2 separate regions of the Homo sapiens genome follow, and region 2 is linked to region 1. The links come from fine-mapping of genetic effects on gene expression. A gene starts in region 1. The other region holds a variant in brackets. All regions are shown on one strand. Distances are from middle to middle. Region 1 holds the start of TMEM87B (transmembrane protein 87B). Region 2 overlaps TMEM87B (transmembrane protein 87B).

Evidence for each region.
Region 2: its variant is fine-mapped to the expression of TMEM87B in fibroblasts (GTEx, PIP above 0.99).

What each region holds. Positions count from the first base shown.
Region 1 is chr2:112,053,257-112,057,650 of GRCh38, reverse strand. TMEM87B (transmembrane protein 87B) reads right to left here and starts at 2,382. Exons shown (of 19, transcript NM_032824.3): 1 at 1,895-2,382. The coding sequence starts at 2,059. RefSeq lists enhancers at 1,241-1,580, 1,611-1,680 and silencers at 2,411-3,140, 3,341-3,390.
Region 2 is chr2:112,116,406-112,120,799 of GRCh38, reverse strand. It overlaps TMEM87B (transmembrane protein 87B), which reads right to left. Exons shown (of 19, transcript NM_032824.3): 19 at 1,486-4,394. Among named protein-coding and RNA genes, the nearest start is that of FBLN7, 20 kb to the left of the region's middle. The variant A/G (reference allele first, on the strand shown) is at 2,338.

The DNA.
Region 1 (4,394 bases):
TGACCAGTCTAACATATGACACACAGTGGTGCTTCAACCATTTGCTCCCTTGTACACTCAAAAGAACCATTTCTTGGCCAGGTGTAGTGGCTCATGCCTGTAATCCCAATACTTTGGGAGGCTGAGGCAGGAGGATGGCTTGAGGCCAGCAGTTAAAGACCAGCCTTGACAATATAGTGAGACCCCTATCTCTACAAAAAAATTTAAAAATTAACTGGTGTGTGGCATGTACCTATAGTCTTCGCTACGCAGGAGACTGAGACTAGAGGATTGCTTGAGCCCAGGAGTTTGAGGCTGCAGTGAGCCATATGACTGTGCCACTGCACTCCAGCCTAGGTAACAGAACAAGACTCTGTCTCAAACAAACAAAAACAAAGAAACAAAATTTCCTGATAGATTTGCAGTACAAATGAAAGAAAGCCCCACTCTCCTTTCCTGTTTCTGACAACCTGAAATGTGGAAAATATAAGTCCACTCTTGGGAGAGAAGGGCTTTTAGACTTCTGGCGGCCCAGGGTCACACAGGAGTAAAATTAGCCTAAAGGTCATGCAGCACTCAAGGAGCAAACTTCTCTTCCTCATGCAGGAAGAAGTACACTTGGCAAAGATCTTTGCAGGTATGTTCACAGTACACTTAGCAAAGATCTATACAGATATGTTCAAGTAATCCAACAATATGCATGCAACTGATTCACTTCCAATATAGTTATATTGACTATTCACTATCGTAGCAGCAGGAAGCCATGAGAGTAGTTCACTGAGTTCTACTTTTTCCCGTTCAGGAAATTAAATAATGGAGATGTGCAGACTATAACTGGCACACAAATTAGGTCACCAACCCAGAAGAATCCAATCCTGGAGGAAATGGCTGCACTAGGTCTTAAAAGATCCAGAAAGATACCCAGCGTGTTCCTCTGAGTAGCTTTTGTGTTGTGGGAAGTATTTGTAGTCTTTGGAACTACTTTCTTTTTCTGGTTAAGGAAATCAAAATATAAGTCTCATCTTTAGAACCTGGACATTATTTCATGCATGTGGAAAATACCCATCCCAAACAGTGCTGGATGAGTCATCTGACCCCAGAGAAGCCGGAGATAATGCCTCTTCCAGACTTCCTGTCTCTCTTTTGCAAGACTTTCCATAATTCTGCCCCTGCATCTCTCCCACATCATCTCCTCTAATTACCAGACGCCAAGTTTTCTAATAGCCTGCCTTGGAAAGAAGAGTTTCCACCCACTCATGCCTCCAGATTCGCCTTTCAAGCACTCCCTAATCACAAGTCCCGCCCCACCTACACACACACTCTCTCTCCCGGAACTGTGACAGGAACTGTAGAGAAATTCAGGAACTCAAGAAGAGAGAAATAGAGGTAGGGTGACTACTGCACGTTTCCCCCTCATTTAAATTTTTTCTTTCTTTTTTTTTTTTAAGGAAGCGGCAGACCCGCTTTCTAAGTTTATGCAGAAACTGAAGCGCTGGCAAGTCCTCCCTGCGGCCTCAGGGGTGTGGCCCACTGTGGCTGCATCCGGACAGGAAGAGTCGAATCCCAAAGATGCTGCTAGATGTGCCGAGAGATTCCTGATCCAGCCAAAACATGTCAGAGCAGAATGAGGGCCACGGCGTCGGGCATGGTGACCCTCAGTAACAGTCCGAGCGCTCGGACCCGAGGGCCGTCCCATGCGCAATCCTGACGGCTCTTGCCTGCAGCCCAGGTCGGGCCGGAGGAGGGGCCGCTCCCCGCTCCCCGGCTGTAACAGACAAAAGGCTCAGGGAGGGTATCAGGGGACCCGGTGCTGACCCGGCAGAGGCAGGGTGAACAAGCCCGGGGTCAAGCGAAGCCGCACGACGGCCCTGACGGCCCGAGACGTGCCACGCCTGGGTCCCGACACTCCACTTACGTCGTTGACTGTCTCTAACCAGAGCCCGAGCTCAGGGACCGCGCGCACAGCCGCCGGGGTCCAGCACAGGAGGCAGAGGGCGACGCGCAGCAGCGGGGCCCGGGCGGGAAAGCAGCGGCGGCGGCGTGGCAGGAGCCCGGCTACCGAGCGGCAGGCGGCGACCATCTTGACCAGGAAGCTGCACCTGGCGCTCCGAGACGCCTGCCACACCCGCACCTGGTGCAGCACCGCCCCAGGCAGGCGGGTCCGAATCCGGGACGCGGGGCTCGGACTCGGGTGTGGAGGAGGGGCTCGCGCTTGGGCCTGGGCGGAGAGGCGCCGTGCAGTTCTGGGAAACCCGGCCAGGACCGGGAGGCAGGGCTTAGGGCTCTGAGCCGGGCCCGAGCGTGCAGCTGGGAGATGCCTGGAAGGCAGAGATAGGAGCCAGGATGTGGAGTTGGCGGCGAGACGTGGAGGCTGGGCTCAGGGCCTAGCGTGGGCGTGAAGATAGAAGAGGAGCCGGAACGTGCAAGGGAGGGCTGGCAGCCCGAGCGCGGAGGCGGGGCCGGGTAGGGAGGCGCCGCCGGAGTGTGGAGACGAGGCGGGGCTCGGGAGTGTGGGGGCGGGGTGGGAGGCGTGGCTCGGGGCCAAGCTGGGTGTGGGGACAGGGCAGGGTTGGAGGCGGGCTCGGGACTGTGGAGGCGGGGCGGGGCTCGGGACCAGGGCGGAGTGCGGAGGCAGGGTGCCCCAGGAAGGAAGAGCTTGGGGCCAGGCCGAGCGTGGAGGCGGGGCCGTGTGGAGGCGGGGCCGTGTGGAGGCGGGGCCGTGTGGAGGCGGGGCCGTGTGGAGGCGGGGCCGTGTGGAGGCGGGGCCGTGTGGAGGCGGGGCCGTGTGGAGGCGGGGCCGTGTGGAGGCGGGGCCGTGTGGAGGCGGGGCCGTGTGGAGGCGGGGCGGGGCTCGGGACCAGGCCGGAGTGCGGAGACAGAGTGCCCCAGGAAGGAAGAGCTTGGGGCCAGGCCGAGCGTGGAGGCGGGGCCGCGTGGAGGCGGGGCCGTGTGGTGGCGGGGCCGTGTGGAGGCGGGGCGGGGCTCGGGACCAGGCCGGAGTGCGGAGACAGAGTGCCCCAGGAAGGAAGAGCTTGGGGCCAGGCCGAGCGTGGAGGCGGGGCCGCGTGGAGGCGGGGCCGCGTGGAGGCGGGGCCGGGATTTGGAGGCAAGACCCGGCGGGGAGGCGGAGCCTGAGCGTAAAGGCGGGGCTGGTCAGGGAGATGGGGTCGGAGTGGGGAGGCGGAGTTGAGGACCAGGCAGTAGTGTGGAGACGGGGCTGGACGAGAAGGGCTTGGGGTTAGGCCGTAGTGGGGAGGCCAGGTTGGGCGAGGAAGCAGGGCTTGGAGCAAGCCCTAGTACGGAGACGGGACTGGGCGGGGAGGCGTGGCCTGAGTGAGGAGACGGGCCTGAGTGGGGAGGCGGGGCCTGAGTGGGGAGGCGGGGCCTGTCTGGGAGATGAGGCGCAGTGGGGAGGCGGGGCTCGCCGCCAGCGAGCGCGAGTGTCAAGGTCCTGGAGTCGAATGCCTAGTAAGTGCTACGGTTGGAGTGCAGTCTAGAGTTCTGTTCCCAGGGTGTCTCCATTTCTTGCGTCTTCTACACTTACCCCTGCCTCGACCCTCTCAGCTGTATGGAAACCGTTCTTTAAATTCAGGGAATGTGCCAGGAAAGTGCTTTGAGGCCAAGGCCAGTTGAACACAAGGCATTGTGTTGTGAAGGTTAACGTTAATAGGACAGTTAATACTTTTCAGAACAAGTAGTTACTTGACTGGCTTAAAGCTCAGAGGGGTCAGGGCTTGGATCCGTCTTATTGTGTACCTTCCCTTGCATTTTCGGCTGTAAGCTGAATACATGTTTTGCTGTCAAAGAGAATTAGTTCATTCATTATCAAATGTAAATAATATCCAGCAAGGGAATAGAATCCTGTGCTAATATTGTTATTAACGTAGAATAAGATCGATTTATAGTCCAAAGGCCTTGGCTGCTTTACCAGTCACCAGTAATTATTGAGGACCTACTATACACTAGAGATTGCATGTGCATCTTCCCAGTAAGCAACGTGATCAGTTCTGTTTAGGTCAGAATAACTGTAACAGGACCACAGGGGAACATCCACCAGAGATTTAGGAAGTAAGTGAGGGACAGAAGGAGAGAACAATACATGAAATTTAAGTTCTACAAGAAGAGTTAAGGGCGAGTTACCTGTGGGAGTGAGGGGTAAGTCTGAAATCGTTTTAGTTACGAGAGAACTGGAGGAATGGAAAGATCTTCCAGATGACTGGATGTTGGTGTGAGACGGAGAGTGGCAAAGCTGGGAATATTTAAACAGTACCAAAACATACAGGCATTCCTAAATTAAGTTAGGCAGATGGCACCTTTAGTTAAGAACACTGGAGAGGCAATGATTTTTTGTTTTGTTTTGTTTTTGAGACTGAGTCGCGCTCTGTCGCCCAGGCTGGAGTGCACTGGCGCGAACT
Region 2 (4,394 bases), 63 kb before region 1:
TAGTAGAGATGCGGTTTCACTGTGTTAGCCAGAATGGTATCGATCTCCTGACCTCGTGACCCACCCATCTCGGCCTCCCAAAGTGCTGGGATTACAGGTGTGAGCCACTGCGCCTGGCCAAGGCACTATTATTTTTACATATTTATGTTGAATATGTTTCTTAGAAAATTAGGGGTAAAAATTAGGCCCTAGGGTATGGTGGGTCCGCAAGATGGAAATAAACCCCGGGTGTCTGAGGGACATGTGGAGGAGGGTGGCCCTTCCCACCTCTATACCTACTGAAGAATTGTCACATGAGCAAGAAATAAACTTTTTGTCTTAAGTTTCTGAAAGGCTAAAATCAAGTTGTGACCACAGCCTGGCTGAGCCTCAACACTAACCATGTATGCCACCCCAGTGCTTTTCCACTCAATCCTTTCTCTACTTTTTTTTTTTTTTTTTTTTTGAGACGGAGTCTCGCTCTGTCGCCCAGGCTGGAGTGCAGTGGCCCAATCTCAGCTCACTGCAAGCTCTGCCTCCCGGGTTCACGCCATTCTCCTGCCTCAGCCTCCCGAGTAGCTGGGACTACAGGCGCCCGCCACCACGCCCGGCTAATTTTTTGTATTTTTTTTTTAGTAGAGACAGGGTTTCACCATGTTGGCCAGGATGGTCTCGATCTCCTGACCTTGTGATCCACCCACCTTGGCCTCCCAAAGTGCTGGGATTACAGGCGTGAGCCACTACGCCCGGCCTTTTTTTTTTTAAATTATCTTTATTTCAAAATAATAATTAATTATGTAATTATTTATGTAATTAAGAATTATGTAATTACTTAATTCTGTAACTTTACAGAAAAGTTGGAAGATAGAATGCATTTTTTCTGAACCATGAGAGTAAGTTGCTCTACCTTATTTTTACATAGATAAGCATTCACATATGTGCCACTGCATCACAGTTCTTATAAGTATTTTTATTATAAATTCTTCATAATTTAATGGCTATACAATATCTCATAAAGTAGCTGGTTAAACCATAATTCACTTAACTATGATATTGTTTGTCTCTAATTTTATTTCTACTTTAATATTATAATAAACACTTTTGTGGAGAAACTTTATTCTGTATTTTGAATCATTTTTTAAAATATCACCAGAATTGACATTATTCAAAGGTTATAAACACATTGTTGAACTTTTCACAAAAAAGGAAATCAACTATATTACCATCATTAATAAGTGTGCTCATTTCATCAGACTTTGAAAGCAAAAGGATTTTACAAATATACCATAGTACAAACTTATGTTAATTTGATTTTTTAAACTATCCCCTATCTTTTGTTTTGCATTTCTTTACTACTACTGAGGTTGAGCACTTTTCCATGTTTGATTAGCTGTGCCTCCTGTTTTAAGAATTTTATGTCCTGCCATCTATTGGAGTCTATATATGTCTATATGTCCTACAGATTTATATAATCTAGCACCAATAAATACTATCAAGAATCAATCATTCAAATTCAGAGCATTTTTATTAAAAGAACAAAATATTAAGGCACAAAATACATCAATTTTTCAAATGAAAACCCTTCAAACGGTTATGTCCTACATTCAACGAAACTTCTTCCAAATTACGGAATAATTTAACTTTTTAAAATAGAAAAATACAAGTTCTTAAATGCCTAAAATTTCTCCCCAAATAAATGTTTTCTTAGTTTTAATGAAGTCTCTTCATGCAGTACTGAGCTCCAATATTATAATGTACACTTCCTTAAAAATCTAGTTTTGCCACTTATATACATTCAATATGTTTAACCAGTATATTAACCAGTATATTAACCAATATGTTAAACTTCTTTTAAGTATAAGGCTTGGTATTTTGTATTGCTTATTGCATGCTTTGATCATACAAAGACACAAGTACCAGAACTAGTGATTATAAATCTAGCATAGCATCTGTCAACTTTAGTCATGTACAGCCTAGTGCAACAGACTCGAACTTTTTTTTAAAAAAAGGATACATAACTCAAAATGTATATGTACATTTTTTATACTTTCAGCTTGACAGTATAGTAATGTAAACATTGTACTGTAATACAAGGGGAAAAGGTGGTATTTTCTACAGGATGTGTAAGTTAAAATATTATTTTCTTTACAAGAAAAATATGGGAACATTCTATCATCTCTCAGGCTTAAAAAATTCACATATTCACATATTTTTCCTTATTTTTACAATAAAATTAATTGCTATCTAAAGCAGATATTTAAATACTAATCTAAATCAAATCATGAAAATTCCCTTTTAAGCAAATTTCACACATCGTATGAATGAATGGCATAACCAGAACACTTAAGCATTTTGCCT[A/G]GAAAAACATCAAACCAGACCCGTATCCTCACTAACAGTGAGACCCACCCTGATGGGGGCATGCTAAAAGTAAACTGATTTGAGTGCCTCAGAGGCCCTGATGGCCAGTTTCAGGAAACTGTGCAGAAACAGGGATGATGAGCTGCTCAGTAGCCCTAGGTATAACTTCTCCTGGTGTCCTTCCTGTGAACTACAGCTATGGCACTAGAGCACCCCTCTTGCGTATGTAAGGGGCCTAAGAAGACCCTTCATAGAAATACTCGATCCAGGTCATCAGTCATCAAGAGATGGCACAAATATTACTGAAGGTGACAGACAGCACATGCCCTTCTAGTAACAGTATTTGTAATGAGGTTACTAGGAGGGAATTCTGCTTTCTCTGGATGGAAGAAAAGTTTGCACTGCAGCCTGTAGCTGAGCTACAGGGTAGCATCATTTATCCTACCAGCTGTAGAAAGACATGTTTTGGTAAACATTACTGAGATTCTGTCAGAGACAGTTTCCCTTTATTAACATACTCACCATTAACTCCACACTCCCACTCTACCAGATTTGCAGCTCCTACTGCCTGCAAGCCCAATATTCCACATTTTAAAATTCAACTAGAGCCACATAATGAGTAGGGGGTCAATCTGTCTCAAAACTTGGGGAATGGGGTATTAGATAAAAATGTTACTGGGCTAAGGGGAGAATACAACAGAACATAAATGCTGGGAATTATAGTGGGTGGGAACCCATTACTGCAGCAGAAACTGAAATAAGAAATGGAATTCACAATTGTTAAACTACTTTTTTTTTTTCTCCCTAGGAAGGATATCCCAAAGCAAGGGCATCTTGAAAAGCATGATTTTCTCGGTAATGTTTGCCAACACTGTTCACTTTCCACATGGTCACGACTGAAAACACATTTACCAATACCTTTCAAGCGATATGACTACCAGAAATAGATCTTCTTTACTACCCTCTCTGAAATGAGTAAACAAGAAATAAATTCAGAAGGTAGGCTTTTGAAAGAAAAAGAAAAAAAATTGCTTGCGGCTTCACAGTGAAAAAAATTGGAGTGTTTGTGCCGGTTAAGATTTTAATGTTTTCTTAATCAAAATTCTCTGAAGTCATTCTCAATTTACAAGGTTAGAACTCCTTCAAAGAAAAGACATACAAGACTCTAGCTTTAATTATTATTCTAAATGTCCACTAGCCCTGTATCTTTGGTCATGAAAGCAGCAAAACATTCACATTTTCATCATACTACATTCAATTGCCTTTCAAGTTTAGAACATTCTACATTTTAAAAAAAGACATTAAAGCAAAAGATTTCATATTACACATTACAAATATATGATGTAACGAAATAAGGTATAAAACATGGTTGAAGCTTAAGAAATTAATTATAAAATCAATAGTGATGTAGCATGCAACTAAATGTATGTTTTTATTATGAAATGTAATATGCCAAGATTATGTAAAAGATACAGTTCTAATTTCCACAAAGTTCACCAGTAATGGGTCTCCCAGCTTGCCAGTTAGGAAGTGCTCTGGGGGAGCCACGTGGCCACCACCCACCCCAGCACACTCAGCAGCATCGCATGTACACATGGCCTGAGTGAGGGACAATGAGGGTAATTCTTTGGTAGTGACCCTCAAGACATCTCTCTCTGTGCACTTGTGTTCCCCTGAGCTCAGAGAAGACCTAACTCCATGATTTGATGTGCATGATGAGACTCAAACAAGGGCTTTGTATAGATTTTTTAAAAAGGGTGGGTTGGGGGGGAGCGGAAAAAACCTATAAATATGCCTATATTCAAACATTAACTGTTTTACTTAATATCAAATCACTTCAGTACAAATGTCAAAGAGAAGTATTATTGCATCTAGTAAACCTAAGACACAGAGACACGGATATACTATACTCCAGAAAATCACAATATCTACCTCAAAGGTGACTAGAAGAAAGACCAAGGGTATTTATTAAAAAACATTTTTCTTTAATCTGGAATTGTCATATGTTCCAGAGAAAAGAGGGAGAACCCAAACCCACAGGCCTGCCACCTATCAGC